Linked DNA regions of Homo sapiens. The protein of the gene in region 5 interacts with the protein of the main gene of each other region in a pairwise test. Each region holds a gene or a part of one and is shown on either strand. Other genes may lie near its edges. The genes, in order: MYOC, LRSAM1, TRIM63, IRX6, MYL2, ZNF529 and GJB5.

Region 1 (3,500 bases), on a different chromosome or scaffold from region 5:
AGGGAAGATAAAACATGATTGGACTGTGCTGATAACAGTTGGGCCTGAGTGATGGCTACATTGGAGTTCATTGTAGTCTCTCTACTTTTGTGAATATTTGAACAATTCCATAATTAAAAACCTCATAAATAATAAATTGCAGGGCAATGTGCCTACCTTAGAGTAGGGTATTCAAAATCAAATAATATTTTAATTCCACTAGAAGGGCTGGTTTGTGAATAGGTGAGTCGTAATTTCAGGAATATGGAGACAGTCCTCAGCATCTTCTTAGATGTCTGAATTTCAATAATTAAAAATTCATGAAAAATTAGCTGGGCATGGTGGTAAGCATCTGCAGTCCTAGGTACTTGGGAGGCTGATGTGGGAGGATTGCTTGAGCCCAGAAGTTCAAGGCTGCAGTGAGCTATGATCCTGCCACTGCACTCCAGCTTGGGTAACAGAGCAAGGCCCGGTCTCAAGGTCTCAAAAAAAAAAAAAAAGAGACCGGGCACAGTGGCTCACACTGAAATCCCAGCACTTTGGGAGGCCGAGGCAGGCGGATCACTTAAGGCCAGGAGTTCAAGACTAGCCTGGCCAGCGTGGTGAAATTCCATCTTTACTAGAAATACAAGAATTAGCAGGGTGTGGTGGCACATGCCTGTAGTTCCAGATACTCAGGAGGTTGAGGATCACTTGAACCCAGGAGGCAAAGGTTGCAGGGAGCCGGGATTGTGCAACTGTACTCCAGTCTGGGCAACAGAGCAAGACTCTGTCTCAAGAAAAAAAAAAAAAAAAAAAAAAAAAAAGAAGTGTGGCTCATGTCTGTAATCCCAGCACTTTGGGAGGCCAAGACAGGAGGAGTACTTGAGCCCAGGTGTTCAAGACCAGCTTGGGCAACATAGGGAGACTCCTGTTAAAAAAAAAAAAAAGATAAAAGTTTACTGCATGACTTAAGGTTTTTTCCCTTGTTATATGCAAATATTCTTGTAAGAAGTAACATATTAAGCTTTATACTTTCAGTAGAAATATTCTGTCTGATTCCTTTCTGAGACCAGTTTTGCATAATGGAGAGGGAGTGTGTGCAGAGTTCCTATAGGAGTTTGGGGTGGGGGTGGTGAGCCATACAGAAGGGAAGCGGGTGGGCAGCATTGGTTAGACAGTAAGTGATCATGGTGTGCTACATGTCTCTACTCTTGCTTAGGATTATGATCTTACAGCAGTCTTGAATACAAGGATGAGGCAATAGTCACAAGGAACAGGCTTGGCTATTTTAAAATGCAGTTTGGCCAGGCCCAGTGGCTCATACCTGTAATCCCAGCACTTTGGGAAGCCAAGGTAGACAGATCACTGGAGCCCAGGAGTTCAAGACAAACCTGGGCAACATGGTGAAATCCCATCTCTACAAAAACTACAAAAAGTTAGCCTGGGTGGTGATGTGTACCTGCAGTCCCAGCTACTTGGGAGGCTGAGGTGGGAGGATCACTTGAGACCGGGAGGTCAAGGCTGTGGTGAGCAGTGATCGTACCTCTGCACTCCAGCCCTGGCGTAGAGTGAGACCCTGTCCTCCCCTCCAACCTCCCAAAAAACCCATCACATACACATAAAAACAAATAAAATGCAGGTTTGATGATTATTCAGGTGTGGCAAGGCCAACATCCCAGGAGGCAATTGTCACTGAAAAGCAAGTTAAAGCAAAATTATGGAGACAGTAAAAAGATCAGCAGTTGTTGGGTGAGGAAGGGATGACTAGGTGAGGCACAGACGATTTTTAGGGCAATGAATACTGTGTATGATACTATAATGGTGGACACATGTCACTATGCATTTGTCTAAACCCATAGAAGGCGCAACACCAAAAATGAACCCTAATTTAAACCGTGGACCTTGGGTGTTGTGCGTGCTGATGCAGGTTCATCAGTTGTAACAACTGCTGTGGCGGGAGATGATGATAATCGGGGAGGCTGTGCATGTGTGGGGGCCAGTAGTATCTGGGAACTGTTTGTACTTTTCTCTCAATTTGGCTGTGAACATAAAACTGCTCTAAAAAAAAATTATCTTTACAAGTTGTTGTACTCACAGAGCCCAAGAGGAAGGGGGCACACTAAGCCCAGGAGGCCACCTGGGGAAGCACCAGGGTTGCTCCAGAAGAGGGCACCAGGGGAAAATGTGGGAAAGCGCCTTTATTCTTTCCATGGGAAGGAAAGAAAGGGGAGGCAGGGTAAGCAGGTTTAGGATTGGGGAGTTTGAATAATTTCAGCAGGATCTGGGGTCACAGGAGTTATCTCTAATTGTCTGGTACCAGGCCCTGGGTGATTAGGTCAGGGGGACAGTGGCCTTGAGTTTGAGCCAGATGGAGGTGGTCACAGGGTGTGGGCTCTGGATTGGTTGGTTTGCATATGAAAGCTGTCCTCCCAGGTGAGTCCTTTGCTAACCGTAGGAACTGGCTACCCCTGGGAGGGGCAGTCCCTCTCACGTTTGCAAGGCCCAGACAGCAAAGCATCAGAATAAAAAGACATGCTTAATACACTGGGCTTTTCTCTTGCTGAACCTCTGAGTCACTTCTCTGCCCTTTGAGCAACTTGTTCCCCGCTCAGGATTCTCAGGTGTTCAGGACAGTGGGAGGAAAGTCAGTGCATCCCCTGAGGCCGGAGCGCCTACACAGCCGAGAGGGTCGGGAAGACATGTTCTGCCTTTGATCATTTGTTTGCTCAGCTCTCCTAAATTTAGATTTCAGGCAGAGAGGATCACCACAGAAGTCTTAATCCTCTGGTTCTACCACATTTCATCAAAGCCACACATTATTTTACATTTTCACATCTCCAGAGTCAGGGTACCTTGTTTGAGTTGCTGGGGTTCAGCTTCAACAAATTATAGTACTGGAAAAAATTTCTCCCTGGAAGGAGGTGAAGAAAACATTCAGCTAGCTCTCAGGTGCAGGCTGGGCCAGACAGCCATGCTGCCCACAGTGAGCCAGCTCAGTAGCTGCTGCAGCTGCCTGCCCCTGATCCCAGCTACCCTTCTCTCCTCTCCACCCCTGCCTCTGTGTGGCTGCAGTTGTTAGCCTCCCTAAAAGTGTTAATGCCCTGGAGGTGGGTGGGTCCTCCATCCCTGGGATATCCCTCAGTCTAGAGTGCACCATGTAAGTAGTTAAAACCCATAAGCTGGCCAGGCGCAGTGGCTCATGCCTGTAAACCCAGCACTTTGGGAGGCCGAGGTGGCAGGATTGCATGAGGCCAAGAGTTTGGGACCAGGCTGGGCAACATAGCGAGACCCCATCTTTACAAAAAATTAAAGAGTTAGCTGGGTGTGGTGGTGCAGTCTGTGGTCTCAGCTACTCGGGAGGCTGAGGCAGGAAGATGACTCTTGAGTCCAAGAGGGCAAGGCTGCAGTGAGCCATGATCATGCCACTGCACTCCAGTCTGGGTGACAGAGTGAGACCCTGTCTTAAAAAAAAAAAAAATTAAAAAAAGAAAGACTCATAAGCCAAAATGTATATGTAACTGAGGACATCCTCAATGTGC
Region 2 (3,500 bases), on a different chromosome or scaffold from region 5:
TTCAACCAAACTCAGGTGCAAAATATTAAAAAAAAAAAAAAGAAAGAAAGCATCTGTAGTGAACACATACAGGCTTTTCTCTTGTCATTATTCCCTAAACAATATAGTATAACAGATTGGGCCTGTGCTGCTGGGCTGACACCTGTGCTGCCGGCCTCCTCTGAAGGTGCATATCACTCTCCCAAGCTCAGGTCTGCGCATAACAACCCTGGGCTCACACCTCCCACATGTTGTGAATGCCTCCCAGCCCATCCGGGGAGGAGCTCACAGTCAGCAGGGAGTCCTTCCAGATCACCTGCGCGTCCCTCCTCTTCCTTCTTGCCTGGGACCATCAGTCTCCTCGCCCTCTGCTAGCTGACTCGCCATGAGGCTGTCACTTGGCTTTCCTCCTGGCATGTAAACTCCCCAGGGACAGGGCCTGTGGCTGGTCATCTTTGTCACCCTAACCCACACACAGCCCACAGAAGTATCCAGTAAACCATACTGATCAAATCCCAGACTGACTGGTAGATTGGGCCCCTCTGACATGCAAGAGGCAGCCCAAAAGGAGCAGGCGCTCAGCTGCCGCGTGGAACCCCATGCAGAGCCCCAGCTGCCTGGGAGGAGGGCCCAGTACCTTGATGGTTGCCAGACTCAGGAGGCTGCAGGATTTGGGAAGCAGGGAAGTGAGGTGATTCGTGTGGACGATCAGCACCTGTGTGGAGAGATGTGCGGCCATGCTGGGCTGAGGAAGAGCAGCAGGCAGGGCAGGCTAAGGGCGTGGGAGCCAGCCCAGCGCCGTGCCACGCCCCACCATCTTGCTCTCCCAGACACCACCACGGGGATGCGGGTCAGTATCATGAACTCTCCCAATGGGGAATCTAATGCCCTTCCTTAAAACCTGGATCTTCAAGGGTGAAAGAGACCTTAGAGGTCTACATCTTCCTTCCATCTGAGAAGGGATCCCCCTGCAGCCATCCTGATCATAACCTTCCCAGCACCAGCGTCTTCACGTGGAAAATAGAGAATAATAAAGTGCTTGCCTCCCAGGGCTGCCATGATGTTAAATAAAAGCTCATGCGCAAAACTTCCAGGGCTGGCAGAGGGGCCAGGGCTCAGTCCAGGTCATCTACTGCTATTTTTCCTTTTCTTTTTTTTTTTTTTTGAGACCAACTCTTGCTCTGTCGCCCAAGCTGGAGTGCAGTGGTGTGATCTCAGCTCACTGCAACCTCCGCCTCCCAGGTTCAAGCAATTCTCCTGTCTCGCCCTCCCGAGTAGCTGGGACTACAGGCGCATGCCACCACACCCAGCTGATTTTTTTTTTATTTTTGGTAGAGACCGGGTTTCACCATGGTAGCCAGGATGGTCTTGATCTCCTGACCTCGTGATCTGCCCACCTCGGCCTCCCGAAGTGCTGGGATTACAGGCATGAGCCACCGCACCCGGCCAATCTACTGCATTTTTCTTAGGCATTGACTGCGGCCCAACACTTCCAGCACAGACTGGGCGTGGTGGCTCACACCTGTAATCCCAGCACTTTGGCAGGCTAAGGCAGGTGGATCACTTGAGGTCAGGAGTTCGAGACCAGCCTGGCCAACATGGCAAAACCTCATCTCTAAAAATACAAAAATTAGTTGGGCATGGTGGTGGGCGCCTATAATCCCAGCTACTCAGGAGGCTGAGGCAGGAGAATTGCTTGAACCCAGGAGGCGGAGGTTTCAGTGAGCTGAGATTGCACCACTGCACTCCAGCCTGGGTGACAGAGCAGAGCGTCCGTCTTCAAAAAAAAAAAAAAACAAACAAAACTTCCAGCGCCAAGGAGCTCACTACTCTGTTGGCAGGGAACACTTTTTTTTTTTTTTTTTTTTGCATATTCTCATTTAGATACTTCACTTAGAGCGCTTCTACCCATCTGCATTCAAAGCTGCAATGCTCTGCTGAAAAATCATTCACTCCCCTCTGAATCTCCCCTGGGTGACCAGAATAAAAGGCGTGAGTTTCTATTATTACTAACACCGGGGTTCATAAGCCTTTACTACGTGGTAGGCATGTACACTCAGTATATTTCTATCTCTATCTAGCTATCTACCACTCATTTAATTCTCACAATACCTCAGGAAGGAGAACTATGAATGTCTTCATTTCACAGGGGAAGAAACTGAGAAGTAAGAGTTTAAGGAAGTTGCCCAAGTCATGAAGCCAGTGAGGGCAGAGTTAGAATGTGACACAGGAAGGTCCAACCCCAAAGCCTACTCTCCTATCTGTGAAAACACCTGCTGCAGGCCAAGAGCATAAGAAGCAGAGAGAAAGGAGGTGTCTACGCCGGGAAGACAGCTCCTCAAAGTCCCTTGTGGGTTCAAACAAGCAGACATGCAACAAGAAAGTCTCTGAAGATGAAGCTCCATCTTACCTTCTTCTGCAGAACTTTGCATGTTGCAAAAGCTCCAAATGGAATCTAAGATAAGATAAAGAAGAGTAAGTGTCTCCCCTCCTGCCAGTTTTTAGCTTGTTCTCTGAGTGGCATTCACGTGAGGAAGAGACAGGCAGGAGGTGAACAAGGGCAAAACGCCACAGCAGGTGGCAGTGCTGAGCCCAGGGGCAAGGCTGGCAAGCAGTGGTGTTGGGGATGTGGCCAGCCCTTCCCTCGGTCAGCTGGCAGGAGACTGCCCTGCCCCACCCACCCTGTCCCCATTGTGAACCCCTTCAGGGGCTGGAGAATGCCAGGCCCTTCCAGCAATGTAGGAGTCTATGGGTACATTTTCTACCTAGACTCCTTGACTCTTGGAGACTACGTTATATTGAGGCCAAAGGATCATCTTCAATTATTTTGGACGAGAACAAAATCTAAGGAAACATCTCGTGACTAGAGCTTCTGGCCTTTCTAAAGCCCCAGTCCACCTCTGTCTTTCCTAGGGACACAAGATCCAAGAAAACGGGACAGATCCAATTCACAGCCCAACACTATCCTCAGTTTACCTCTGAGAGCTCACATTTAGAGATGTCGAGAATGTCATCTGCCCCAGCTTCTTTTGCCTAAGGATAAAAAGAATTTTTAAAAAGTATTAAGACAAAACACCTTTGCAGAGTGGACAAGCCAGGCAAAGAACATAAATGTAAGCAGCTGCAAAGGACCATAGACACTATCTGGTTCCACTGGTCCATTTGGCAGGTGAACCAATGACCCCTGCTTTCCCAGAGCTTGAGGCCCAGAGGGATGAGGAACTGAAAAGCAATGACAGTGCGCTCAGTCTACAGGGGAGAAGCACCCTTGGCAGGGGGCCTCATCTGTTGGGTCTAAGTCAAATATTTCTTCTGTGGGTGGGGGAGGCAGATGGGAAGGAGCACGGCTTGTTGGGGGCAGTGCGGAGGCCTACTCCATGGGGACCGAGGAGGAGATGGGATAGAGTTAGAGGAAACCCACTTTCCCTCACCAAACACATCTGGTACTCCAGGCGTTTCCGAGCCTCCTCACTGGGTTTCCGCTTCCGGAAGAAGAGCGGCATCCTTCCCTTTTCCCAGAG
Region 3 (3,415 bases), on a different chromosome or scaffold from region 5:
AGCTAGGATTGCAGGCATGCGCCACCACGCCCAACTAATTTTGTATTTTTAGTAGAGACGGGGCTTCACCATGTTGGTCGGGCTGGTCTGGAACTCCTGACCTCAGATGATCTGCCCTCCTTGTCCTCCCAAAGTGCTGGGATTACAGGCATGAACCACTGCACCTGCCCAGCCTTAATCTGCCTCTTCTTGATGATTTTCAGTGAGCCTTCAGTGAGCCTTCAGTGAGCACGGGGAAGTCCCTATAACCTGCAACTAAAGCATTTAAATTTTGCCTCAGGCTCTGTTTTCTGGAGAACCAGAGCAACAACACATTGAACCTGTTCTTGAAGGACCAGCTCAGGGCTGGCTTTCCATGGAGTCCACATTGGGAAATGGTGGTGTCGAGAACTCCTTTACTGGGACCTAAGCCTAGCCCTGCCATTGCCTCCTACCAGGGGTCCTGTTCATTCACACTCAACCCTCATCTCCAGGAAAAAAAGGCTGAATGAAACCCCGGCTCCTTTGAAGAACAGGAAGAGAGCATTGTGCATTTATTAAAACAACATATAACACAAACTCAGTTACCACCCCGTATGTCTGGGATAGGCACTGAAATACAGCACATCGTCCCTGTGAGTGCTACCCCATCCTCCTGCTCAGGAAAGGAAGTGGGCAGCTGTATCAACCTGGCTTCCTTCCCCTCTTTCTGACAATCGCAGGTCACCCAACGACCAGGCATTATTATACAAAAGTTCCTTTACAAAAAGCACCAAATTGGCATACATATACAAGTATATACAAAAATCACATTTTAAAAATGTACAAAATATTCCATTTTGCACCAATGTAGAAAAGTGTCCTGTGTGATTGTTTCAAGCACGTTTCCAATTCTGGTTCAGTGTCTGCTGGACGCAGCGGTGAGGGTCCTACCCTAGTCCCTGCTCTCTGAGCAGAGAGAAGACATCACCTCCCCATTGCCCCTCCAGGGGCCCCGACCCCTCCCACCCTGGGCCTGTCACCAAGGCCGCTGGGCCCCTCCCCACCCTCTCCAGTCTCTCTGCATCTGGGGGCCTCTCATTCATCCAGCTCCTTACTGGTGTCCTGAAATGAAGAAAAAGATACAGAGGCAAGGGGTGAGACAGGGACTCAGGAGGATCCAAGGCTTACCAAGCTACTGTTTATTCAAACAGGAGTTTGAATAAAACATCAAACTCCAATTCCTCCCGGTCTCTTCCTTTTAAAACCAAAATAGAATTTAGCTGCCCAAATATTATGGATTGTACATCAGTACAAAACTCCAAAAGACTACCTATAGTTTTCAACTGGATTGGAATTTAGTTTCAGTACCTGTGGTTTGAAAAATAACATTTGCAAGCATGTGCTAATTAGCAAACGTCCTTCCTATGCATCAGACACCGTGCTAAACGATTATCTTATTCACTTCCCACTACAACCTTTTGACGTCAGTACTGTTAGACCCCCATACACAGATGAGTAGCCCAAGACTCAGAGAAATTGTGAGCTGCTGTGATTCAGAACCCAGGCTCCTAATCAAACTCTGCCAGGCTGGCAAACTCAGATGCCTACAAGGAGCCAGCAGATAACATGAATGAGTGAAGCAAGCGGGACTGGTGGTGGTGGGGCTGGGCAAACTGGCAAGGGCATGTCCCATTTTTCTTTTCTTTTCTTTGTTTTTTTTTGAGATGGAGTTTCACTCTTTTGCCCAGGCTGGAGTGAAGTGGCGTGATCTCGGCTCACTGCAAGCTCCGCCCCCCTGGGGTTCTAGCGATTCTCCTGCCTCAGCCTCCCAAGTAGCTGGGATTACAGGTGCCCGTCACCACGCCTGGCTAATTTTTGTATTTTTAGTAGAGACGGGGTTTCACCATGTTGGCCAGGATGGTGTCAAACTCCTGACCTCAGGTGATCCGCCTGCCTCGGCCTCCCAAAGTGCTAGGATTACAGGCGTGAGCCACCATGCCAGCGTGTCCCCTTTAAAGGGGAGAGCCACTGCCCAGAGCCAGCACTCTGGGACTACAAGGAAGTTCAAGTCCAGCATTGTTTGCTTTTTCTAAACTTTCACAAGGTGAAAATGCAGATTCTTAGTTCAAATCTCCTTTTTCTTAACCCTTAAAAAAAACCTAATTTTAAAAATGTTAGCAATTAATTTTTTCTTTTAAGAGACAGTGTAGTGTCCTCTGTTGCCAAGGCAAGAGTGCAGTGGCGCAATCATAGCTCACTGCAGCCTCTACCTCTTGGGCTCAAGCAATCCTCCAGCCTCAGCCTTCCGAGTAGCTAGGACTACAGATATGTACCACCATGCCTGGCTAATTTTTAAATTATTTTTGTAAAGACGAGGACTTGCTGTTGACCAGGCTGGTCCCAAACTCCAGGTCTCAAGCAATCCTCCCGCCTCAGCCTCCCAAAGTGCTGGGATTATAGGCACGTACCACCACACCCAGCCAGCAAGTATTTATTTATTTATTTTTTGAGATGGAGTCTCACTCTTGTCACCCAGGCTGGAGTGCAGTGGCACGATCTCGGCTCACTGCAACCTCCACCTCCCAGGTTCAAGCGATTCTCCTGCCTCAGCCTCCTAAGTAGCTGGTACTACAGGCGCCTGCCACCAAATTCAGCTAATTTTTTGTATGTTTAGTAGAGACAGGGTTTCACCATGTTGGCCAGGCTGGCCTTGGCCTCCCCAAGTGCTGGGATTACAGGCTCGAGCCACCGTGCCTGTCCAGCAAGTAGTTTTGTTTGTTTGTTTGTTTGTTTTAATTTAAACACAGTGCTGGCCAAACAAAACACCTCAATGGGCCCAGCCTAGCTCATGAGCCCCTGTCTTTTCCCTCTGCTGTGCCATATTGCTTTCCATTTAAGAAGATCATTTAGATGTGAAATGGGAGCATTTTATTATGAATAGTTTGGGGTTTTTTTCTTTTCTAAGGGTAAAGAGAACAGGACTTTACCCTCAGTAGGGTTAAAGCACGTGCTGGGGACAGTTCTGAGCGTCATTGCCAATGTCTAACACAGTGCTTCACATACAGTAGGCACCTCAGATTGTTGTGGAATGAATGAAGGAACGAAGGAATGGAGGTAGATGAATTTCTTACCTTCTTCCTTCCCTTCTGTGGACTCTTCCTCTTCCTGATCTTCTTCTTCAATGAATTCTTCCTCTTCCTCATCTGTGACAAAAAAACATTTGTGTTAGGATGGGGCCGGTTCCTTGAGGAGCTACTTGAAGAGGAACCAGGCAAGAGAGAGCACGGTCTAAACCCCTTCCTGTGCCCAGTCGGGTCAAACGGCCACACAGCGGCGGCAGTGGTCTGGGAGGGGATGGGCTTGCCAGACCCACGCTGCACAGAGGCCCTGCTCCTGCAATCCCCCGCACTCCGTCCCAGGGAGCTGGGCTCAAGTCACTTCCTTGCTCCAGCAA
Region 4 (3,980 bases), on a different chromosome or scaffold from region 5:
CAGTGTAAGGTGCTAGTGGCAAACTTGGAGTTGAGGTACGCCCCGTCCAGGACCCCAGACCTTGCCCCGCCTCATACAAGAACCCAGAGCCGTTGCTATCTTCTGGGCCACAGGCTCTCGCGTTTCAACTAGAAAATAAAACTGGGCCCTTGAACCAACCCCTATGGCTCCTTGGAGGAGTTGCAGCAAGAGCCTGGTGCAACTTTAAAAGTATAAAGCGCTTTTAAAAGTATAAAGCGCGGTGACCCCGGTAAGTGAAAGGCAAGGCTTTCTGAGGTTTCTGGCCTGCAAATCCCACTGGATTCCTGCAGTGCCCACCGAAGACCTTCCCCTACCAGACCGACAGTCCCTTTTCACCCCTAGACGTCGCGGGTTGGAGGCTCTCAGAAGGGCAGCTGGGGCCAGAGTACTGAGCCTTCAGATGTGCAGTCTACCGTGCTCGCAAATTGGAGGTTCCATGTCTCGGGGCCAGGCCTAGAGGAGGCAGCCCCTTCCTGGGTACCAACGAGCCTCCCCCACCCCTGCCGCCGCCCACCCATCAGTGCCCCTTTGAAGACCCCTGGGATGGAGTGAGGGGGTGGTCAGACCGCTGGGCCCAGCCGGGCGTCCAGGAGGAGCGCAGGGAATGGGCCGCCCTCCCGGAGCGCTCCACTGCGGCTCTCCAGCGCCACCCCCAGCGGAGCGCAGGGGCTGCAGCCCGGACCGGGAGCCTTCTTCAGGCTCCCTGGCTGCCCCGCGGCCACTGCGGGAGGCGCGCGCGCGAGGCAGCCAAGCCTTGCCTTCGGAGGAGATGCCCAGGGATCTTAGCAAGCAGCCTGCGGCTGCCAGGGATCGGACCTGGCGAGTTTCCCGACGGAATCTGAGGGATCCCGAACCTCGGCCTCGAGGGGGCGCTATCCGGCCTACTCGAGGACCAGGCAGCTGCAGAGAAGCTCCAAGGTCAAGGCCCTGGGCCAGGCCAGGGCTTGGAGAGCCGGAATCTAGCCCGAGTCCTGGGGAGGCTGAGGCGGGGAACCAGATCCCCGAGGACAAAGATGGGCGGGCCAGTGGGATCCACCGACGCTGCCCGGAGCTGCTCCAACGAGAGCCGGGCCTGTGGCGTGAACAAACTTTACTTCAGCGCAGGGGCGGAGGAACCGGGCTGGAGGCTTCTCCCCCGGGCCTCTGCTCTCCTCCACCTGCCAGTGCTCAGCCTCCGCCCAGCCTTCGCCCACCCCAGCTCCCTCCCCCTCCCCCACGCGCCTCTGTTCACTCAGACTCCTGTCTCCCCTCTCCCCTCCTCCTTCTCCCTCTTGCCTTTCTCCCCCACTTTTCTCCTGTCTCTTCTTTTGTATTCTCTCCTCCCTCGCCGCCCCGGTTGCCTCTCGCCTCCTCCGGGCCGCAGGGGAGGAGGTGAGCGCGCTGCGCCCGGGGCCTGCGCGGCTCAGAGGGAGGCGTTTCTCCTACTTCTCCCGGGTAATTTGGAGAGGTTGTGTGTGTGTGCGCGCGCGCGTGAGCTCCAGGCGAAAAGGGGTAGGATTCAGCGCCGAGCAGAGAGGGTCAGGGTTTTTGACGTTCCTCGCCAGCTGCACAAACCTCCCGGAGCAAGTGTGAGTGTGGGTGAGAGTGCGCGCGCGCGCACGGGCTGGCTGCGCTTGGCACGCTTGGTGGCCCAGGGTCCCGGGGCCCGGGGTCCCGTCTGGCGGCCCGGGATTACCGTGACGTCACATTGAGCCTCTGGCCACCTTGGACTGGGACACCTCCGGAGCCTCACAGCCCCGCGCCGCGCCGCGCCTCACCTCGCCACCACGCGCCTTTGGGAACCCGCATCTTCTTCCTTCCCCTGCCCATCCATGGGCCCTTCTGTCTTCCGGACCCCACGGGCCGGAGGGGCGCCTTCCGGAGCGCAGGGCTCGGCAGCCGGGCTGCCCTCGGCTCTGCCTCCACTGGGGCCAACCAGGCGAAGGAACCGGCGCTGGGCATCCGCAGCGGTGTAAGGAACTGAGACACCTCACTGCTGGGGGCGCGGAACAGCTGGGCTGAGACGGGAACTCGACAGGGAAGAGAGAGACGGGCCAGGGACAGCCACCATGTCCTTCCCACACTTTGGACACCCGTACCGCGGCGCTTCCCAGGTAAGAGGCGCCTCTATGGGGGATAGGGGACAGACTGGGTGGAGGGAGTGCCTAGTGCACGGCGCCTGCCTCTGATCATCCTCCTCTTGTGTTCTGGGGGAAGCCAGAAGGAGCAAGGACCAGGGTAATGTGTCACAGCCTCCTCTGACATCCCCAGTCCCTAAATGAGAACGTTTCACCCCGGAGTGCACGCTGGAAAATCTTGTGACCTGAAACATGAGCACTCTGACCACGCGCTCAGTGAGGTGGGTGGGATCACAGGGATCTCCCAGTCAGGCCTCCTCCTATACAGAAGTCTGAGGTGGCCGGGAGAGAAAGAAAGAAAGAAAAGAAAGAAAGAAATAAGGAAGGAAGGAAGGAAGGAAGGAAGGAAGGAAGGAAGGAAGGAAGGAAGGAGAGAGAGAGAGAGAGAGAGAGAGAGAGAGAAAGAAAGAGAAAGAAAGAAAGAAGGAAAGAAAGAAAGAAAAAGAAAGAGAAAGAAAGAACTTGTAGGCTACAACGCTGTCCATCTCACCATATTGTTGTTGATTTGTTGACCTCGGCTATTCTCCTACCCCTTCCTTGGGCGGGCCCAAGCTCTCCGGTTCCCTCGATTTTCCAAACCAAAGTGGATGTTGTGCAATGACAAGGGTTTCCTGGGAAAGTTCTGCGGACACCCCCTCCACTGTTCTCCAGCTTTTCTCTAGAGTTCTGAGTGTATTTTCCTGTTGTCTAGTGCCGGCTCGACCTTTGACCTGCTGTGTGATCTTAGACAAGTCTCACACTCTCTCTGATTATCCACTCCCAATCTATAGAATGGGAGCAGGAATGAGACGTTAATAATGGTCTCTAAGGCCACCTTCTAGCTCCGCCTTTGCAGGATCCTGGGAGGAGGGTAGGGAAGGGAGCAGAGGGTTTGGTGTCTTTAATTCCGGTTTCAAAATGTTCACATTTTCCCGGCCTCCTGGGGCTCTGGGGCCTTAGCAATGGAGTAGGAGCATCTATAAGGGCAGTTTGGTTAATTTATAATTCCCGTCCCAGCACCTAACAGAATGCTCAGCCCAGGTGGCATTTAGTTAATGCATAATGAAGGAATGAATGAAGGAGCAATCTGATTATCTGATTTTCTCTTCTTTGTTTCTAGCTCCCTTCAGCGGGAGCGGGGGCGGGGGTGGGGGGGGGGTCTCTGACCTCCAGTGCCCTCTTTCTTGCCCCTATAGTTTCTGGCGTCGGCAAGTTCCAGCACCACATGCTGCGAATCTACCCAACGCTCTGTCTCAGATGTGGCATCAGGCTCCACCCCAGCGCCCGCTCTCTGCTGCGCACCCTACGATAGTCGACTGCTGGGCAGTGCGCGACCGGAGCTGGGCGCCGCCTTGGGCATCTATGGAGCACCCTATGCGGCCGCTGCAGCTGCCCAGAGCTACCCTGGCTACCTGCCCTATAGCCCAGAGCCCCCCTCACTGTATGGGGCACTGGTGAGTACAGGGGTGGAGTCCCAGGGGAGTGAGCAGTAGAGACAGGTGAAATCCAGAGAAAGTCAAGGAAAGACCCACACCTCCCGAGGAAAGGAAATGGTTAGGACTGTGTATAAGGAGGACAAAAAAATACAGTACCTTACAGTTTGCAGAACTTCATACTGTTTAGAAAACATTTATACTTCTATTAATTCTGTGAGGTAGGCAAGTAATCATTAATCTCAATTTAAGAATGAGGAAATAGAGGTGCACAGGAGTTCAAATACTTTGCCCAATGTCACAGAGATACAAAGGGTCAGAGAAAAGCTCCTGAAGAAGATTAAAGCAGGAAGTGCCCCAGCTGGTGTGTGTTGTGGGGCAGGGGGCGGGGGGTGGGGGGCAGTAAGGGGGGAAAGGAGGGAGGGACAAG
Region 5 (3,500 bases):
TCCGATGGCATCCCAAGGGACAGATGTCATGGAAGCAAGGCCCTCTAAATGCTTGAGCTCTTTGGAAGAGAGGGCTTTGGTCATCCAGGTAACATTCCAGGAAAACGTGATCCTTGATAGAAACAGTTCTGAGTGGCTGCAAAGGTCTACCTTAAATAAAGAGTCACCAAGATTCAATAATAATGACTGCAAGGCTGTCACTAGCTCATCTGCCTTTGCCTTCCTTACACAAGGCACTGTTTGTCAGAGAAATGTCGTGACCAAATACACGACCTCCTGTTTATTGGAACATGGCCTCTGGATGGATTTCCAACTGTAGGATGTGCGGCCACGAAGTACCCATAGCCACCCAGGCTGCAAAGAAGATGGAGGTGGATAAATGGGGCAGCCACATGGCTAACAGACAAGGTAGGGACAGAGGCGGTACTCGGGGGAGAGAGATGAGGGCAGGGACCACTCTGCAAAGACGAGCCCAGGGCGCAGCAGCGAGCCCCCTCCTAGTCCTTCTCTTCTCCGTGGGTGATGATGTGCACCAGGTTCTTGTAGTCCAAGTTGCCAGTCACGTCAGGGGGGAAGGCGGCGAACATCTGGTCAACCTGCAATGAGCCAGCAACACGTGCTAAGGACGAGGGGAGGGGAACTGAGACGGAGGGTGGGGGGCTGTGGGCGGGGCCTGAGTGGACGGATAGCTGGGGGGTGGGGGATGGGAACATGGGCCACTCAGAGGGTCCTCCGGGGAAGGACTTCCCCAGCTGCTGCAGGGCCCCCTCGCCCAAGGTCATGCCCTTTCTGGGGCAGCCCACAGCCAGCGGATGGGATTGGTGTGGGGGTATAAAGGCACGGCCATCTCGCCCAACTTGGTACCTCTCAGGAGAGCTGTAGAATAAGCTCCCTCCCTGGGTAGTCAGCAGTGCCGATCTTTGGGCCTAAATCTTGGCTCAACTTCTTCCTTCATGCACTTTTCCTTCCTTGCCCTTCCCTGTTCTTCCTTTCTTGCCCTTCCCTGTTCTTCCTTCCCTGACCCCAAGGGCCCTCCCAAGTAAACATCATGCAGAGATGTCCCTGGAAACCCAGCCTTCCACTGGGATCACAAACTCAAGGGTTCCGAGGGGCCAGGCAGGTTATGCAAGGGAGCAGGATAGGTCCTATGGCTAAATGGAGACACGTGGCCATCTAAAAAGGTGACATGAAGTGACCACAGGGTCCAGGGTGTCAGAAATCTAGATTTTTGTTTTTACACAAAATTTCCCCATTTAAAAAGCATTGGCTAGTTATTATTATTATTTTTTTAAAACATACTGGCTATTCATAGCTAGCACTTATATTGCCCTTGCCACAAGTTCACACTTTCCCCACATTAACATGTCGAATCCTCGCAATCTCCTATGAGGTAGCTTCTATTATTATTCCCACTTTACAGATGAGGAAATTGAGGTGCAGTGAGGTTAAGGAGCTTGTTCAAAGCACACAGCAGGTGGAAAGTGAAGGCAGCCCTTTTAGCTGCTTGAATTTTGGGGGAGGGAAAATCTACATACAATTTTTAGTAAAATGTGGAACTTGATGGAAACAGGCCTGTGAGGCTATGAGGGGAGCATTTAAAATCGACTCATTAAGGTTCACTAATAAGGTTGACGGCACCATTGCTTGCTCATACAGAAGCTTTGGCAAATTAGCAAAAGTGCCCCTTCTACCAAACTCACTACCGCACCACCTGAGTTGAAAAAAAAAAAAATTATTACCAGACACTTTACTGCCAGTTCTGGAAAGCTGTTGCAACAAATACACAGTCTGATGACTTTTATGAAACTGACATTTAGAAGAATTGTTCAGTGCACAACTCACATGACAGTATGTGGCGGCCCTTCACGCCATAATAATGTCATGCTCTAAGCAGGTCTCTATGCATCGTGAGCAAGGCAGAACCTGCAGTCACGCAGACCTAGGTTTGAATCTAGGTCCTGGCATTTACTATTAGTGTTGTTATTTTATTTTATTTTTGAGACAGAGTCTTGCTCTGTTGCCCAGACTGGAGTGCAGTGGCATGATCTTGGCTCATTGCAACCTCTGCCTCCCGGGTTCAAGCGATTCTCGTGCCATGCGTCAGCCTCCTGAGTGGCTGGGAATACAGGCGTCCACCACCATGCCCAGCTAATTTTTGTATTTTTAGTAGAGACAGGGTTTCCTCATGTTGGCTAGGCTGGTCTCAAACTCCTGGTCTCAAGTGATCCTCCTGCCTTGGCCTCCCAAAGTGCTGGGATTACAGGTGTGATTATTGTTATTTTAGATGAGTGACTTTACTTCCCTGGGTCTCAGTTTGCCTATCTGTAAAATGGCAGTTATGCCAGTCCCTACCTCATAGGGTGGCAGAGAATGAAATGAGGCCAGGCCTCAGAAGACGATAGCTGGTTCTCTGTCAGTGTGGGGTCAGGGGTGCTTTAGACGAGAGGGGAGACGGAGCCCCCCAGAAGGAGAACCCAGGAGCTGGGTTAGAGGGAGTGCTTGAAGGACCCCATTACCTCCTCCTTGGAAAACCTCTCCGCCTGCGTGGTCAGCATTTCCCGAACGCTGCAGAGAAAGGAAAGCAGGTGTTGGTGTCAGTTGTGTGTGTGTAGGGGGGACAGGGGGCAAGCAGGGAACCCCCTTCCTCCCCCACAGACCCCACTCACTAATCAGCCTTCAGCACCCCTTTGCCTTCAGGGTCAAACACTTTGAATGCGTTGAGAATGGTTTCCTCAGGGTCCGCTCCTGAAACGGAACACAGGGCTTACATGTACTGGGGGTGGCTGGGAACCACTGGCACCCCAGGCAGCAGGGCCCAAGTTCCCCCAGAGATGAAGGGGCCAGAGCAAGGCTGCTTTGCATGGAGGAAAAAGACCCTGCTTTCGTCTGATCACTGAGCCTCTGTATTTCGAAGAGAGGGCTGAGAACCCAAGGTCAAACATCATCTAGATTTGAAAGCCTGGGATTCAAATCTTAACCCTGGCACTTGCTAGCCATGTGGCCTCAGACAAGGGACTTTCTGTCTCTTAGTCTCAGTTCCCCATCTGTAAACTGGTGATAAGAATAGAGCATACCTCCTAGTTGCTATTAAGTGGGGTAATGCATATAAAGTGGTTAGCATGAGGTCTGACTTAGGTTAAGTCTTGGAGCAATGTTAGTTGCTGTGTTTTTGTTTTGTTTTGTTTTGTTTTGAGACAGAGTCTCACCTTGTTACCAAGGCCGGAGTGCAGTGGCACAATGTCAGCTCACTGCAACCTCTGACATCCCGGTTCAAGGGATTCTCCCGCCTCAGCCTCCTGAGTACCTGGGACTACAGGTGCACACCACCATGCCTGGCTAATTTTTTTGTGTGTTTTTAGTACAGATGGGGTTTCACCATGTTGGCCAGGTTGGTCTTGAACTCCTGACCTCAAGTGATCTGCCCGCCTCGGCCTCTGAAAGTGCTGGGGATTACAGGCATCAGCCACTGCGCCCAGCCAAGTTGCTGTTTTCATTATTTT
Region 6 (4,152 bases), on a different chromosome or scaffold from region 5:
ATCAGAACTATGGCTGTCTCTGCTTTGAAACTGACTGGAAAGGACACCAGCAAACTCCGGTGGTGCTGGTGTTGTAAACCAAAAATAAAATCCTAAGCACACCCAGACCATCTTGAATGGACCCCTCCTCTTGGCCAGGGCATTCCTAACCTGAAAAACTAGTAAAGCCATGATGGAAAGGCGGGGGTGGGCGGGTCGGACATGCTTCATTATACCCTCCTCCATTTTGGAATTACTGATAGAAAAGACCCCAAGTCTGAAAAGAAACATTTACAATCTATTCTCTGTGAAGCGTGCTACCTGGAGACATTCCTAAGTCTTACGTCAATAACTCTTTCAACCCATTGCCAATCAAATAATCTTTGAATCTACCTATGACCTGGAAGGCCAGCCACCTTCCAGCTGTCCCGCCTTTCCGGAGGGAATCAATGTACATTTTACATGTATTTGATTGGTGTCTCATGTTTCCCTAAAAGGTATAAAACCACATATATCCCGTCCACCCTGGGCACAGGTTCTCAAGATCTCCTGAGGGCTGGGCCACCGGCCATTGGTCACTCATATTTAGCTCAGAATAAGTCTCTTCAAATACTTTAGAGTCTGAGTCTTTTCGTCAACAGTGTAAAACACGCCCTAAGGCAGACACACACACACTGAACCGCCGCTACCTGCCAGATTCCATCTGGGGCCTTTCTCATGGTGCAAAACGGACAAAAACTCCAAGTCACCCTCAGGTTTACGACCACGGGTCACATCCTGAGGCCCCCACACTTAGAAGCCAGAGTGGAGCAAAACCTCGCCCGACTCAGGCTCCGAGTTCTCCCCTCGACCCTCCCCAGCCTAAAGGCTGTACCCGCTTCAGGCCTTCCCAGCCCGGCCCTCCAGTTCCTTCTTCGGCCTCCCTCAGCCTGGGGTCCGGGTTTCCTCCTCGGCTGAGCAGCCGGGTCCGCGACTCCCTTCACCCTCCCCGGCCCGGGCTTCCGGTTCTTTCCAGAGGTGAGGCAGGGGCCACCTAGAATTCCGCGGCCCCCCACCTCCCCCAAGACCACCCTCGCCCCAGCTTCCTGTTCCCCATTCTGTCCTCCCAACCTGGGTTCCCGATTACTGCCTCGACTTCACCTTGCCGTCAGGGACCACCAGCCGCCTCTTCCGCGCCTAGGGGACGCGCAGCGGCAGCCTCTGCTGATGGCAAGGGTCTGCGCACCCGGAAACTCCAGGGTCTGGGGCGTGGTGCGGCCCCTGCGGCCAGCGGGCTCCGCTTGAGCTTCAGGGCTCTTTCGTTGTTGGACTACGTTTCCCACAGGCCTCAGGGCCGCGGATGAACTTCGACCTTTGCTTCCTTTTCCGGTGTTGTGGTTATTGAGTTAAGCCTGGCGAGTCGAGGTGACCCGGGCCGGGCTGCGGGAGGAGCTCGCGGTGAGGTGGCCCCGCGCTGCCGGGCGAGGTCGGTCCACGTGGAGCCGGGAGCCTGAGGCCTCTGTACGCGGGAGCTGCGGACGATGGTGGTTAGTGCTATTGTTTACGACGTCATTGTGGTGTGTGTGTGTGAGAGACGGAGACCCTAGTGTGTGCCGTGGGTGCTGTTTGATCGGACTCAGGACGGTGAGTAGGGGCGGGGTCTATCGTGTGACCCTGGTCTACGGTGACGTGATCGTGTGACAGCACTGTTGTGACCAACTATAAGTGTGAACGGGGTAGAAGTGTTTTTTTGTTTTTTTTTGTTTGTTTGTTTGTTCGTTTTTTTCCGTGAGCCTGTAGGAGTTTGTTTTGGGTAAAGCGTCATTTTTCCGACTCTGTGATGTCTGTGATGGAATCTCTTCGTGAGGTCTTATACACACACACACACGCATATAGATAGATTACATAGATGATATATAGAAGATAGATAAATGATAGATAATAGATAGATAGATAGATAGATAGATAAGATAGATAAATGAAGTTTCCTGGGAAGACGTGAAGGGGAGGGCATAGGTGTAGTATTCATTCCTGGGATAACTCCCCTTGCATGAGTTTGGAGGCCATTTATACATTAAAGAACTACAGTATTTCCTGAGCTGTGTTCCCTAGAAACTGCTAGGCATTGGTCGTACCTTTTTCTCGGATGTGGGGAGGAGTCGACAGTATTCTAGTTTCCCTCTTCGATCTGGGTGTGTTTGTTGTGTGTGATGGGCTTTTCTGGTGGTGAACACTGTGTTCTTATTTAACCAGTCCAGGATGTCATGAGTCCTTTCTCCCTCTTGGTTATGTAGTTCTGCAAGTGAAGGCCCCCTGAAGTGGAAGACAGCATTGGTACTAATGGCCAACTCAAGGTTAGTTTTTTTTTTTGTTCATTTACCTGGTCCCTTGGTTTTCTCTTCCCAATTAACAACAGGACCGTAGAGATGGGTCCCCTTGTCCTCCATTGCCTTTCCAAATGCCCATTTCCCTTTCATTGAATATTCACATATGCATTAGGTAAATCATTCAATTCTCCCATGTGCTTCTTTTTTTCCAAAGGATTTTTATGGTATAGAAATACAACTCCTGGAGGAGAAGTTAAAACTTTTTTTTAGAATGTAATTTGTTAAGGAGGAGACGAGTGATTAAGTAGAATGGCACACTAGATACCTTTGATCTTATTTACAGACTTGATTTGCAAACAAAGCAAGATAGGAGATGGTAGGTATTAATCAGTAAGTGACAAAGTTGGCTTTGGAGACATTTAGGAGTGGGAATATGATAGGAGTTTTATGCAGAGAGGCTATGTCAACAAGGGCAGGGAGTTTTTCCAGAACATTCATGAGGGGATTTAAGTGGTGACAACCAAATCTTCTTTGAGATTTGGCAGTGTGACATTGGTGTAGATTGTGAGAGGCAGCCTGATACAGTGGTGTCTGAGTCTAAAGCAGCACAGTCTAATGCAAATATAATATAAAGCCACTTAGGTAATTTAAAAATTTCCATTAGACACTTTTTTTTTTTTTTTTGAGACAGAGTTTCACTGTTATTGCCCAGGCTGGAGCGCAATGGTGCGATCTCAGTTCACTGCAACCTCTGCCTCCCAGGTTCAAGTGAGTCTCCTGCCTCAGCCTCCCAAGTAGCTGGGATTACAGGCGCCCGCCACCATGCCCGGCTAATTTTTGAATTTTTAGTAGAGAAGGGGTTTCATCATGTTGGCTGGGCTGGTATCGAACTCCTGACCTCAGGTGATCCACCCACCTCATCCTCCCAAAGTGCTGGGATTACAGGCGTGAGCCACTGCGCCCGGCTTTAAACACATTTTAAAAAGAAAAAGAAACAGCTGAAGTTAATTTTGGTAATGTATTTTATTTAAACCAATATATCCAAAATATTATTTCAACATGTAATGATATGAATACACTGAAATACTTTACACTCATATCTTTATACCAAGTTTTCAAAATCTGGTATATGTTTTATTGTTATTGCATGTCTCAATTTGGATGCTAAATTTTCAGTGTTTAGGGTGAATTATAGTCCTACCAAAACAATAAAGTTGTGTTTAATAGAAAAACATTTATATTGCTTTTGTATTTAAATGTAAGTTAATTAAAATTAAAGGTAATCCTGTGTTAATTAGCTTAGGAAAAGTGAAAAAAATTTAAAATTCAGTTATATGTTCACACTGCATTTCAAAGGGGTTAATAGTTACTCATTTTTCCGCTTTACAGTTTCTTGTTGTAGAATGTAAACAATAATTATATCAGTGCTTTAGGGTCTTTATGAGGCCTGGATACATTAATATGGACATAAACCTAGAGAATTTAATAAAGGCCTGGCACTTTAAGTCCTTATCTGCAAGGGAAGAAAAAAAGCTGGTTTGTGAAGATTCTTAGTATTCCCCATACATTTTCTGTAAATCAAGAGCAATGAAAATATAAAGTTAATTTTGATGGGCACTTGAAATGAATTTTTTAAAAGCCAGATTTGCAAATGTTCTATTAAGGCAATTTGACTGTCTTAGGTTCAATGATTTGCGAGAAGGACTCACAGAACTCAGAAAAGCTGTTATGCTCATAGTTATTCTTCATTACAATGAAAAGGTACACATTAAAATCAGCAAAGGGAAAAGTTGCATAGGGCAAATACCGGGAGAAACCAGGTGCAAGCTTCCAGTGCAGTTGCACAGGCAGCACCTAATTCTCCCAG
Region 7 (4,163 bases), on a different chromosome or scaffold from region 5:
CAGGTCCTTCATGGTCTGGAAGGTCTTTGCTGACCTTCCAGGCTCCTTGCCATGTGGTGTCCCCACCACTACCCAGCCCACTCTCCAATGCTCTTCCATTATTTTTCACAAAGGTCCTCTGCACGCTATGTGCCCACTGCCTCAAAGGCCCCTCCTCAGCATCTCTTCTTGGTAAACTCCTATACATCCTTCAAGACCCAGCTTAAATGTTACCTTCTCCGGCTCTCCCTCTGGCAGAACTTAAAACTCCCTTCTCTCTCTGTGTCTTTTCTAGGACTTCTCACAATGTTGTAACTGATCTCTTTATATGCCTCCTCTCTCCTGTACTTGGCAACAGCTTTTTGGAAAGAGCATGGAGTATAGAAATGTGTGACTCTCTGCAGGGTGTGTGCATTTCACACATCATTCATTCAATAAATATAAATTGAAGCCTAACTGGACAAGACACCAGGCACCATACTAGGCACAAGGGATAGAGCAGTGAATAAAATAAAGCCACTGCTGCATGTGTGTGCAACACTGTGCCCATAATTGTGGCCTGTGTGTAAGAGTATGCTCATGTGAAGCTACATTGTGTTTGCTTGTGGACATGAGGTGTTTGTGGCTCCTGGATGCTTTGTCTGTTGAATCCTGACCCCAAGTGACCTGCTGATACAGGGCACCTTGGAAGTCAATTAGGCCAAAAGACCGTGTCTGTGCACTAATGAGAAGCTTTCCCCAGGTGCCCCTGCCCACCTTCTCCACCTCTCCTGTGGTTCCTGCCTGGCTTGGGTTTGGCCTTTTTAACCCAAAGACAACATGCATCCAAATGAGATTTTCTCTAGTGCATACGTCTCTCTCTCCCTCCCTTCTCCTCTGCCTTCCCTGTATCTCAGAAAGAAAAGGCCTAGGAATAAGGAAAAGGAGGAGGAAGAAACATTTTTTTGAGGACATACCATGCGGCAGGCCTGTGCTGGGCAGTATACACGCATTATAGGCAATTGTAGACAGGGCTTCCCTTGTGTCAGGCACTGTTCTAAGCACTTCACCCCTAAGGCTGGGTTAATCCACGTATCCACCCTATGAGGTAGGTGTTGTTCTTTTCCCACTTTCACAGAGAAGGCAAGAAATCACACAGTGAGAAAGTGGCAGAGCTGGGATTCAGGCCTCAGCTTCTCCCACACAAGCCCACAGATGGGAGGATGAACAAGGAGTCAGAGTGGACCTGTGGCTCTCCCCTGAGAGGATACCAGGATTCGAGGCTCAGCGCCCTGGGAGGAGTGAACCCCTCAGTTTCCTGAGCCTCATCAGAAGCAGTCTGGGGAGGCTGGGGCCCAGCCAATGGCAGTGCAGGTCCCAGCTCCTCCTCCTCCCAGGCTGGGCCAGCACACCCGGCAGGCTCTGTCCTGGAAACAGGCTTCAACGGGCTTCCCCGAAAACCTTCCCCGCTTCTGGATATGAAATTCAAGCTGCTTGCTGAGTCCTATTGCCGGCTGCTGGGAGCCAGGAGAGCCCTGAGGAGTAGTCACTCAGGTAAGGGCATCTGTGTCCGCATGTGCCCTGCCCCTTGGCATACGTGGCAGGAGGACACTTCTCTGCTGGGGAGTGGTGGGATGTGGCCTGGACACATCTGCCACCCTGGGTCCTGATGGTGGAGGAATAAGGGGCTCTGGGTTCTTTCAGGTCTCCCCAGCCGGGCAAAGGTAGGAGCAGGGGCCAGGCCGGAAGCTCAGCAGGCAGGGTAGCTCTGCCTGGGCCTGCAAAGCCCTGCCCCACTCCTCCCCAAGTAGGGATGGGCTGGGTGAGAGCCCCTGGGGCTAAGGGCGGGGCCTTCCTGGGTGTTCCCTGAGAAGCTGCAGGAGTCCTACCTTAGACAGGACTGAGCATGCAAGATGGTGATTCAAAACAGAGCTCCCCCCAACCCCGGCCCCCACCTCCACCCATCCCCCGTCCAAGTGGCGCAGGTGGTGTGGAGACAGGGTGGTGGGCAAAGGTTCCCCCAGCCACCCTCATCCAGGATCCACACACAAGGGGAAGGACAGAATCCGTCTGCACACAAACAGGCAGGCAGCTCATTGAAACTTGAGGAAAGGGTCTGAGGCCTAAGGCTGGGCAGTTCCCGGAGGGTGGGCTCTAGAGCCAGCCTGCCTGGGTTCAAATCCTAGCTCTGCCACTTATTAGCTGTGTGACGTTGAGCAAGTTAATTAATCCCTCTGTGTTCCTCTTTCCTCATCTGTAAATTGGGAATAAAAAATATGCCCTTTCCTAAGGTTGCTGTGAAGGAATAATGTACTGATTCATACAAAGAACTTAGAGCGGTGCCTGGCACGGCATGAATGCTTCATGGATATTGGCTGTTATCACTACTCTGCTTTGCAGTTGATCATGCAGAGGCTCCAGAGAGCCTGGTGAGCTTCAGCCTGGACCAGCATGGGAAGGCCATCATGAGCCCTTTAGTGGCTAGGCAGACAGGTTCCTTGGGGTCCCAGGGTGCACAGTTGGTTGAAACCACAGTGCATGGGTCTTAATGGACACACCCCCATCTCCAGGAATCAGGCAGAGGACTCGCGGGTGAGGAAGTGGGGACCCCTTACTCTGCCTAGCAGTCACAGTCCTTACGCGGAGGTGAATCTGATTCTGTGAGTTCATCAGGCCAAATTCACCAGCAGAACTGACAGGAGCAGCATTTCCCACTTGATGTCTTGACAAGGCTGTTCCACAAGATGATAAATGTTATGTCAGGAGGAAAAGGGCTTCTGTGGGCAAATGAGTTTGGGCAATGCCACATATTTCATACCTCTTTTGGTGAATTTATTAGTGAGTTTATTAGCACGGTTGAGCAAAAGAACCCTATTTAACTTTACTAAACCCAATGTTTGCCAACTTTTCTTGACACAGAATCCTCTTCTCTCACTTCTCCTATTGCCAACCTATGGGACAGGGTTCCAGGGAACACTGTTTGGGAAACACTGGAATACCAGGTTACTCTAGGAAACCTACTGTATGAAGAGAATTTATTGCTGCCTGCTTTAGCTTTCAGCTGGATTGCATTGAGTGGCACTTGAGCAGGACTCTGCCTGGCTAATTACAGAGTGTTAGACCAGATGGGGGCTTGGGGACAAGGTTCCAGCCTCCTTTCCAGTCCCATCCCTGAGCCAAGAAAAGGACAAAGAGCAGGTTCCCCTGGGGAAGGGGCTGTCTGAGAAGAGGCAGCAGTGCTCAGAAAGGAGAGAACCATCTCAAGGCTCAGCCCCCCTGAGGAGGAGGGCCAGGGTTGAAACAGAGGGAGCAGGCAGAATGTCCCAGCTCCACCAGTCTTCACTCTGCAGAACCTCAAGACCAGAGCCTCAGGCCCGGGGAGGAATGAGTGGCTCCCTGGACCTGCCCTTATCCACTGGTATTGGTAAGAGCTGGGTTCTGGACTTAATTACCTATGCTCAAATCCCAGCCCTGCACCTAATAGTTGTGTAACCTTGTATATAATGCCACTAAACCTCAGCTCCCTCCCTCTACAAAATGGGGACAGTAGTAGAACCCAGCTCCTCTAGTGATGGTAAGGATGAAATGTGATGACATATTTCTACAAAGTGCTCAGAGCAAGTCTGTGATAAATGTAGGAAATGATTGTTCTTGTTTCCCTGCAGTAGCAGCTGACGCGTGGGTCCACCATGAACTGGAGTATCTTTGAGGGACTCCTGAGTGGGGTCAACAAGTACTCCACAGCCTTTGGGCGCATCTGGCTGTCTCTGGTCTTCATCTTCCGCGTGCTGGTGTACCTGGTGACGGCCGAGCGTGTGTGGAGTGATGACCACAAGGACTTCGACTGCAATACTCGCCAGCCCGGCTGCTCCAACGTCTGCTTTGATGAGTTCTTCCCTGTGTCCCATGTGCGCCTCTGGGCCCTGCAGCTTATCCTGGTGACATGCCCCTCACTGCTCGTGGTCATGCACGTGGCCTACCGGGAGGTTCAGGAGAAGAGGCACCGAGAAGCCCATGGGGAGAACAGTGGGCGCCTCTACCTGAACCCCGGCAAGAAGCGGGGTGGGCTCTGGTGGACATATGTCTGCAGCCTAGTGTTCAAGGCGAGCGTGGACATCGCCTTTCTCTATGTGTTCCACTCATTCTACCCCAAATATATCCTCCCTCCTGTGGTCAAGTGCCACGCAGATCCATGTCCCAATATA

Evidence for each region.
Region 1: the proteins of MYL2 (region 5) and MYOC interact in binary tests that used the Homo sapiens proteins (3 or more experiments, as listed by UniProt).
Region 2: the proteins of MYL2 (region 5) and LRSAM1 interact in a two-hybrid assay, tested with the Homo sapiens proteins (one large-scale study listed by IntAct).
Region 3: the proteins of MYL2 (region 5) and TRIM63 interact in a two-hybrid assay, tested with the Homo sapiens proteins (one study listed by BioGRID).
Region 4: the proteins of MYL2 (region 5) and IRX6 interact in binary tests that used the Homo sapiens proteins (3 or more experiments, as listed by UniProt).
Region 6: the proteins of MYL2 (region 5) and ZNF529 interact in a two-hybrid assay, tested with the Homo sapiens proteins (one large-scale study listed by BioGRID and IntAct).
Region 7: the proteins of MYL2 (region 5) and GJB5 interact in a two-hybrid assay, tested with the Homo sapiens proteins (one large-scale study listed by BioGRID and IntAct).

Annotation. Positions count from the first base shown.
Region 1 is NC_000001.11:171,639,189-171,642,688, forward strand, and holds part of MYOC (myocilin precursor), read right to left. Parts: intron 1-3,500. UniProt on the Homo sapiens protein: Secreted glycoprotein regulating the activation of different signaling pathways in adjacent cells to control different processes including cell adhesion, cell-matrix adhesion, cytoskeleton organization and cell migration.
Region 2 is NC_000009.12:127,454,510-127,458,009, reverse strand, and holds part of LRSAM1 (E3 ubiquitin-protein ligase LRSAM1), read right to left. Parts: 5' UTR 3,483-3,500; coding exon 3,411-3,482; intron 3,013-3,410; coding exon 2,956-3,012; intron 2,435-2,955; coding exon 2,390-2,434; intron 695-2,389; coding exon 617-694; intron 1-616.
Region 3 is NC_000001.11:26,050,801-26,054,215, forward strand, and holds the end of TRIM63 (E3 ubiquitin-protein ligase TRIM63), read right to left. Parts: intron 3,165-3,415; coding exon 3,093-3,164; intron 1,084-3,092; coding exon 1,073-1,083; 3' UTR 501-1,072; downstream 1-500. UniProt on the Homo sapiens protein: E3 ubiquitin ligase. Mediates the ubiquitination and subsequent proteasomal degradation of CKM, GMEB1 and HIBADH.
Region 4 is NC_000016.10:55,323,023-55,327,002, forward strand, and holds the start of IRX6 (iroquois-class homeodomain protein IRX-6), read left to right. Parts: upstream 1-1,180; 5' UTR 1,181-2,069; coding exon 2,070-2,114; intron 2,115-3,313; coding exon 3,314-3,571; intron 3,572-3,980. UniProt on the Homo sapiens protein: Transcription factor. Binds to the iroquois binding site (IBS) motif of target genes to regulate gene expression; functions as a transcriptional activator or repressor. Modulates expression of RCVRN, VSX1, BHLHE22/BHLHB5 and TACR3/Nk3r.
Region 5 is NC_000012.12:110,910,580-110,914,079, forward strand, and holds the end of MYL2 (myosin regulatory light chain 2, ventricular/cardiac muscle isoform), read right to left. Parts: intron 2,746-3,500; coding exon 2,667-2,745; intron 2,566-2,666; coding exon 2,517-2,565; intron 597-2,516; coding exon 498-596; 3' UTR 266-497; downstream 1-265. UniProt on the Homo sapiens protein: Contractile protein that plays a role in heart development and function.
Region 6 is NC_000019.10:36,570,493-36,574,644, reverse strand, and holds the start of ZNF529 (zinc finger protein 529), read left to right. Parts: upstream 1-1,352; 5' UTR 1,353-1,505; exon of another isoform or gene 1,506-1,602; intron 1,603-2,252; 5' UTR 2,253-2,298; coding exon 2,299-2,312; intron 2,313-4,152. UniProt on the Homo sapiens protein: May be involved in transcriptional regulation.
Region 7 is NC_000001.11:34,753,684-34,757,846, forward strand, and holds the start of GJB5 (gap junction beta-5 protein), read left to right. Parts: upstream 1-1,363; 5' UTR 1,364-1,512; intron 1,513-3,623; 5' UTR 3,624-3,647; coding exon 3,648-4,163. UniProt on the Homo sapiens protein: One gap junction consists of a cluster of closely packed pairs of transmembrane channels, the connexons, through which materials of low MW diffuse from one cell to a neighboring cell.